Linked DNA regions of Homo sapiens. The protein of the gene in region 1 purifies or fractionates together with the protein of each later gene. This does not show direct contact. Each region holds a gene or a part of one and is shown on either strand. Other genes may lie near its edges.

The links.
Region 2: the proteins of SGSM1 (region 1) and PIP4P2 purify together in Homo sapiens (affinity purification with mass spectrometry; one large-scale study listed by BioGRID and IntAct). This does not show direct contact.

What each region holds. Positions count from the first base shown.
Region 1 is NC_000022.11:24,893,203-24,897,026, forward strand, and holds part of SGSM1 (small G protein signaling modulator 1), read left to right. Parts: intron 1-228; coding exon 229-411; intron 412-2,020; coding exon 2,021-2,089; intron 2,090-3,824. UniProt on the Homo sapiens protein: Interacts with numerous Rab family members, functioning as Rab effector for some, and as GTPase activator for others. Promotes GTP hydrolysis by RAB34 and RAB36.
Region 2 is NC_000008.11:91,020,149-91,023,972, forward strand, and holds part of PIP4P2 (type 2 phosphatidylinositol 4,5-bisphosphate 4-phosphatase), read right to left. Parts: intron 1,257-3,824; coding exon 1,108-1,256; intron 116-1,107; coding exon 9-115; intron 1-8. UniProt on the Homo sapiens protein: Catalyzes the hydrolysis of phosphatidylinositol-4,5-bisphosphate (PtdIns-4,5-P2) to phosphatidylinositol-4-phosphate (PtdIns-4-P).

The DNA.
Region 1 (3,824 bases):
AATGAATAAAGGAAGGAGGGAAATAAGGAAAGAAGTAGCCTTGCTCCCTTTGTGTCTTCAGAGCCTAACCAGTGCTAGGCATAGCATAGTAGGTGCTCAGTTAATATCTGCTGGATGTTAACTGCGTGAATGTTGGATGGATCAGAGCCACTCTCTTCCACGTTGGTCTGGCCCTCCCCAGGCGCCCCTTTGTTGACACCTCGGGTGACATTGCATCTGCCCTGGCAGGTGGACGAGCAGATTCATGCCTGCTATGCACAGACCATGGCTGAGTGGCTGGGCTGCGAGGCGATCGTGCGGCAGAGGGAGCGGGAGTCCCATGCGGCCGCCCTGGCCAAATGCTCATCCGGGGCCAGCTTGGACAGCCACCTGCACCGGATGTTGCACAGGGACTCAACCATCAGCAATGAGGTGATGGGCGGCTGGCCTCGGGGAGCGCGGGGGCTGGGGAAGGTCAGGGTCTGCTTCATTGGGCTGTTCTAAGAGTGGTGAAGACTGGGTGTCTGGGGCCTGGTGACAGTCTCACCCCTGGCTTTTTCTTTAAGAGTGTGCGGTGACTTTGGAATCAGACCTGAATTCAAACTCTAGTCCCACCATTTAGTAGTTCTGGGGTTCCCTACCAGTACCTTTTCTTCTGGGCCTCAGTTTTCTGCATCTGTAAAATGGGAATAATCAGGTGTAGAGGAGGTTCGTGTACAGTCCAAACAAGACAATGTATATAAAGTGCCTGGCGCACTGCCTGACTTTCATTGATTCAACAAATGCTTATTGAGTATCTACTATGTGCAGGTACTATCAGGAATATCCTGGGATATCAGGAATGTTCCAGTGACCCAGACAGACTGGTCTGTCCTCCCAGAACTTCCAGTTTAATAGCCCAAAGTAGGATCTCAGTAAAAAGTAGGATCTCACCACCCTTGACTGAGGGTGGTGGCTCACGCCTGTAATCCCAGTACTTTGGGAGGCCAAGGCGGGTGGATCACCTGAGGTCAGGAGTTCAAGACCAGCCTTGGCCAACATGGTGAAACCCCATCTCTGCTAAAAATACAAAAATTAGCTGAGCGCCTGTAATCCCAGCTACTTGAGAGGCCGAGGCAGGAGAATCACTTAAACCCGGGAGGCGGAAGTTGCAGCAAGCCGAGATTGCATCACTGCACTCCAGCACGGGCAACGAGCGAAACTCCCTCTCAAAAAAAAGTTAATTTTCTTCAGCAGTGATGATATCAGTCATCAATTGCCACAATAACAGTGTGTAACAAACAACCACCAAAAATCAATGACTTCCAACAGTCAGCGTTTATTTTTGCTCACAACTCTGGGTCAGCTGGCAAGTTCTGTTCTTAACTGGGCTAGGCGAGGCTTATTCTGGCACCAGCTGTCCGTAACTGGTCAACTAAAACATTTGTTTATCTTGGTTGGGCTCTCGTATTTGCCTGGGGTGACTCAGCTGTGCTCCACGTGGCTCACTGCCCAGCAAGTTAACCTGGACGTGCTCTCACGGTGAAAGCAGATGCCACAGAGAGAAAGCGGAAATGCACAAGGGTGTTCTAAGCCTCTGCTGAGTCAAGTTTGTTAACATCCCATTGACAAAAGCAAGCCACATGGCCAAGTCTAGTGTCAGAGTAGGCAAGGACTATGAGGTTATAGGGCAGAAGCATGTATACAGGGATCATGGGAAAAAAAAAAGTGGAGCCATTAATAGAACCAGTTACTCTGTGAGTTGAACTGAAATATTGGCCAGAAGTCTCAATTACAGAGCAGTTAAAGGTGGGGTGCTCTAGTTGCAGAGGTGAGAGGTGGGAACCCAGAGGTCAAAGCGGTCTCTGAAGAGGCTCCAGGAAGCAGGGAGTGGTGCCCCCCTTTCATTTTACAGCTAGGAAACTGATGCTCTGAGAGAGGACTTGTGCAAGTTAGGAATAGAGATGCAACTAGACTTTCTGGCTCCCAGCCCAGCAGTCCTTCCTGCTCTGGGCCAGGGTGCAGCCTCACCCTCCCTCCCTCCTGCTCTTTCTTTTCTCAGTCCTCCCAGAGCTGCAGTTCGGGCCGCCAGAACATCCGCCTGCACAGCGACTCCAGCAGCAGCACACAGGTGACCTTGTGGAGGCCTCGCCCCCTCCCACCCACTCCTCTCCCTTCTGCCTGGGGTCATGGGGGTTGGGTGTCCGTCATCTGTAGGTCACTTTTTGCTTTATTTGTTTTAGCTTTTTATATTAGCATTAAACATTGTTTTTTGTTTTTTGTTTAGTAATGCAAGAAATATATGGATCTATCACCCCTGCAAAAAACTAAAACATTGTAGAGAAAGTCAAAGTCTGCTTTGATCGTCCTTAATCTCTGCCTGCCCTCTCTTGAAATAACACCACTATCATGAGTTTGCTGTGTTCCTTTCAAAACCTTCTGTATGCATATACATACACAGAAATATATAATCTATAGCAATGTTTGGTAGTTGTTTTTTAAATGTGTACATAAATGCCATCATATATGTTGTTCAACAACTTTCCGTTTCAATTGGTGAAAAGAGATAACTCAATCTCACTCCGTTTTTAAAGAAAAAAGCTGGCTGGGCATGGTAGTTCACACTTGTAATCCCAGCACTTTGGGAGGCCAAGGTAGGCAGATAGCTTAAGCCCAGGAGCTTAAACCCAGTCTGGGCAACATGGCAAAACCCTGTCTCTACAAAAAATACGAAAAAAATCAGTTGGGCATGGTGGTGCGTGCCTGTAGTCCCAGCTGCTCCGGAGGCTAAGGTGGGAGAATCACCAGGGCCCAGGAGGTTGAGGCTGCAGTGAGCCATGATCACGCCACTGCACTCCAGCCTGGGTGACAGAGTGAAACCCTGTCTCACACACACGCACACACAAAGCCAAGTGCAAAAACATGCATAGTGTGTTGTCACCTTTTGTGTAAGAAGAGGCAATATTAATATCTGTATATATTTGCCTCCATTTTTGAGAATGGTATGAGGAGCAACCAGAAACGAATCAGAATGATTACCGAGAGAGGAGGGGGCAGAGACAGAAGCTACATTTCCTTGAATATGCCTTGCTTCCTAATTTTGATTTTGGAGTAAAAAAAAAACTCTGGTTTTGACTCTGAAGCTAGGTAAACTTTTTACATAATTAAAATCAATTGAATCAAAAAGAAGTTTTTGAAAACACAGAAACACATGAAACTAACCATAAATCAAGTTGGTGACATAACCACACAGGGAAGAAATATTTCAGGTGACTTTGGAACATGATCTTTAACTGTGTACCCTTGATATGATCCAAGAACACAAAGAGTCACAAAAAAATCTCTAAAATGTATTCTGGAGATTTTTTTCATAGTATTTCATGTATATCTAACTTGAAAAATTGATTCATAATAGTCAACCACCTGGGTGTAAAAGTAATAGGGTTTTTTTATTTTTTGTTTTTTGGTTTTTTTTTTTTTGCCTTTTCCGTGTGTTAACTAATTTTTTGAATGAGAAAAATTATGTATACATGAGGCTGGGCACGGTGGCTCATGCCTGTAATCCCAGCACTCTGGGAGGCCGAGGCAGGTCAATGACCTGAGATCAGCAGTTCAAGACCAGCCTGGCCAGCATGGTGAAACCCTGACTCTACTAAAAATACAAAAACTAGCTGGGCATGGTGGCACATGCCTGTAATCCAAGCTACTTGGGAGGCTGGGGCAGGAAAATTGCTTGAACCCGGGAGGCGGAGGTTGTGGTGAGCCAAGATCGTGCCACTTCACTCCAGCCTGGGCAACAGAGCGAGACTCCATCTTAAATAAATAAATACATACATAAAAATAAAATTAGGTACACATGGTAAAAG
Region 2 (3,824 bases), on another chromosome or scaffold:
TCTCTTACCAGTTGGGTCTTGGGCATCCTATTCGCCGAGATGTGTCCTTACAAATGAGAAGACAATTACAAGGGCATCTAACATATTTCTTGCCTGTTGGGGGGTTTTTGATTGGCTGGATAAGGGAAGAAAATGCAAACACAGCAATTAACCAAAGTACAGATTGTCAAAGTTTGTTTGTGTTTAAAAAGGAAAGGATTCCATTAAAACTAATGAAATATATTGCTTTTGTAACTTAAGGTTTTATTTTATGATTTTTCTATAAAACATATGAAGTCAAGTATTCATGTTTTGTGGTCCTTCAAGACACAATAATCACTGGCTGACTTTTTTTAGTCTTTTCTAAAGAGAAAAAAATAAAACATCAAAGATAAAATTAATATTTAATTGCAGATTTTGAGAGATCAAAATGTAATATATAAAGCCTAACTATGAAAGAAATATATTTCATCTAAACCAGTGTATGCTTTACCAGTTTATTACTTGAAGCTATAAAAATACTGCTGAAAATTTAGTTGCTCCCCAAAGCTCAATTTTTAAAAAAGGAAAGGTGTTATTCAATATTTTAAACATTCCTAAATTACTATCAACTAAATTGAATAAAATGTCAAACTATTTGTAAACACTTTGGCACAGATGCTAATAATAAATGCATAATCACAAAAGCCCAGAAAAACAATAGTGACATCCTACAGACATAAAATAACTTCAAATAATTTTCCACATAAATAGGGCAAAGTTTACATCTGTAATGAAGTTTAGTACACAATATTTTCATTTTAATGAAAACAAGAATGAATGTAGTTGTGATGTGGATAGATATTGAAAGTATTTATACGTAACTGCCATGCTCAGTCTAGTTTTTGAAAGTAAAAAGCCAAAAGGCATTATATTTAAATTCACCATGAAATTCTCTTAATGGGGTTAGCTTTAAACACAGTGAGGTATCCTATGATGAAAGAGAGACAGAAGAAAAGACAGGAAAAAAGATTACCATATTTGTATCCAGCCCACATATACTTTTAAGTAACATTATTGAAGTACTTCCTTTAGGAATAAAATGTCAAATAACAATTTATATTTTTTCTAATGGAAATCTCCACTTACCGTAGCTTCATTGCAAACTGTGCACTTAACCACATGCTGGTGAAGCTTGCCATCCAAATTGATTAGTGATTGGCACACACGGCAGTTTATTACTGGAATACCACTGGCGTCTGGACTGGCAATGGCTGTATATGGAGGTGGGAGCTCCGCTGAAAAGATATTAGTCACTGAATCAGAGTCTTGGAGAAATTACTATGGCTGGTTTGAGTATAGAGGCAATATAAGTAAAGAAGAAACAATCAAGATTTTCCCACGTTCTTTTATTTATTTTTCAAAGCTAGCCAATTTATCTTACTTTTAGAGCACAAACATCCATGAGACTCTTATCAAGTAAAATAATTCTTAACTCTGATAAAATCTAAATCATGTTTGCCTAGGTCTATCCCAATAACCCAGTTTCCTTTTACTAATCTATACTCAAAATGTCACTCCATTCCTATTAGTAAATTCATACAGTCTCTAACAGGAGAGTGGTAATTTATGCCTACAATAAAAATTTTACACAAGTGATCTGATTCCCAGGAAATAAAAATGGTCGATGAAAGCAAAGTTTTAAAATTGCTTATCCATACATATAAATTATGTAGCTGTCATGCTCTGTCTTTATATTGGAACCAGTATAATGACTGCTGGCTATGACAAGAATAAAACAAGGTGTTGGAGGAAGTCAAGAAGAAACAAAAATGAACCTAAGAAAACTAAACTTCTCAGCATGGAACAAAAATGGGAACCATGCTAATTTCAGACACAAAACAAAAATAAAGTAAATATAACAATTTTTAGTCTCAAAATTTACCTACCATTAAAAATGTAAGAAATGCACCAAAGTGTTTATGAGTAAAAAAATGTAGTATGTGGGATTAAAAACTTCAAAAACCATAACAACAACCACCACAAAAAGAATGGGGAACCAGATGAAACAAGTAGCAAAATGTTGATAACTGATGAATATAATGACATGGAAGGTCATAGTTTCACACTACTTTTGTGTATGTTTGAAAATTCCCATAATACAAAGACACACACACAGTGTTTTTTTTGAGAGTCCTAAGGTTGACTCAGTGAGTGAGTGAAGGGTGGAGGCCCACTTTCAAAATCAAGTATCTACCAGAAGTGTATATTTGTTACAAAAGTCTGAGAAAAGGAATCCTGATATACTACTCTGGAATGGGATTTCTAAAGGAGACTGCCTAACCCCTTTCTGTAACTATCTCAACTACAGGAATAGAAGACTTTTCCAAGGTAAAGTTTTGTCTTGGGACATTTAGAAAGGGCCACACTCTAACATATGATTGAAGCACGAAAGAGAACTGGTATCTCAAGAGGCTTCTGTAACACTATAAAATATAATCACAATAGCTAAGCATAATAAGAGCTATTTTTGAAATAAAGGTTTTCTATCCACTGTATTAGGTCCTAAACTTTGTGATATTTTAAAAAGAATTAGAGCATAAAACATTTTGGTATGTTTAAAATACACATATTTCTACCTGATCCTTGGGTTATAATATAGGATTTTTTTCAGACTGCTAAGGATTAGCAACAAGTGGTATTCGTTCAAATGATTCATAAGACAAATTTCTGCAGCAGCCAAGGCTCTGAAAGAGGCCACTTTGAAATGACGATATGCTTATGTTTCTGGGAGGCTTATAACAGAACACTGCCAAACACTGAAATTCAAAAGAAGCTGTACATGTCTTAAATTATAAAAATAATTTTAAATCCATGAAAAGAATTTGAGCGTGATCCAGAGTGACCTGTAATGTATTAATCAAGAAGAAAAAAACATGTTAAAGAAACAATGAGTCAACAATATACTTAAGGTCTTGCAATTTGCAGATTACTTTGTCAGATCTCAATAAAGACATTATTCTTGGGGAAAGAATATGTACCTCACTAGAAATTCAAGACACACTGCCTGGTATATGATAATGAATATTATTTTAATAATTATTTGCAGTAGCATTATTAACAAAAGTTGCTTCCTCTCTGGCCTTTTCCTTGAGTTGTACAGTAACATTACATAGTTCTCTCGTAATCCCAGGTCTCTATCTTACACAGTATGATAGAAAGGAAACTTAAATGCAAGACAGTTTTATAAAGAAAACAAGGGCATTAGGGGGAGAGGAGGAAGTGACATATTGCTACACTACATAAAAGGACACCAACCCATACACTCCTCAGCTTTGCTCAAAGAAATCTCCTAAGAAAATTTCAGAGGGTGATCTTAACAATCATTAAAAGGGCATTAGAGCCAGTAAAACCCTGTGAATTTTTCTTCTAAGATTTGTACTATATAATTTTTAATCTGCCAAAAAAAAAACGCCTTCAATGACAGAAATATGCTCAAATCTACTCTTTTGGAGGCTTGGGAAGTGGAGGGACATGGACAGAACAAGCAGTGAAGATTATAAATCTAATATAAGAGAGACCATAAGCTCCACGAGGCCAGGGGCACATCTGGTTTGTCCACAGCTACTTCACCAGCGCTTGTCATAATGCCTGGTCTATGATGATGCTTACTAAATGTTTATTCAATGGTTGAATTAATTAATAAATCAGCGAGTCACTAAAATTTATTAGACATATCTATTTGTCTTGGAAAAATAACACCAAGTATTAGGTTGCTGCAAAAGTAACTGCGGTTTTTGCTACGACTTTCAAATAGCAAAAACCGCAATTACTTTTGCACCAACCTAATACATTAACCCTACTCT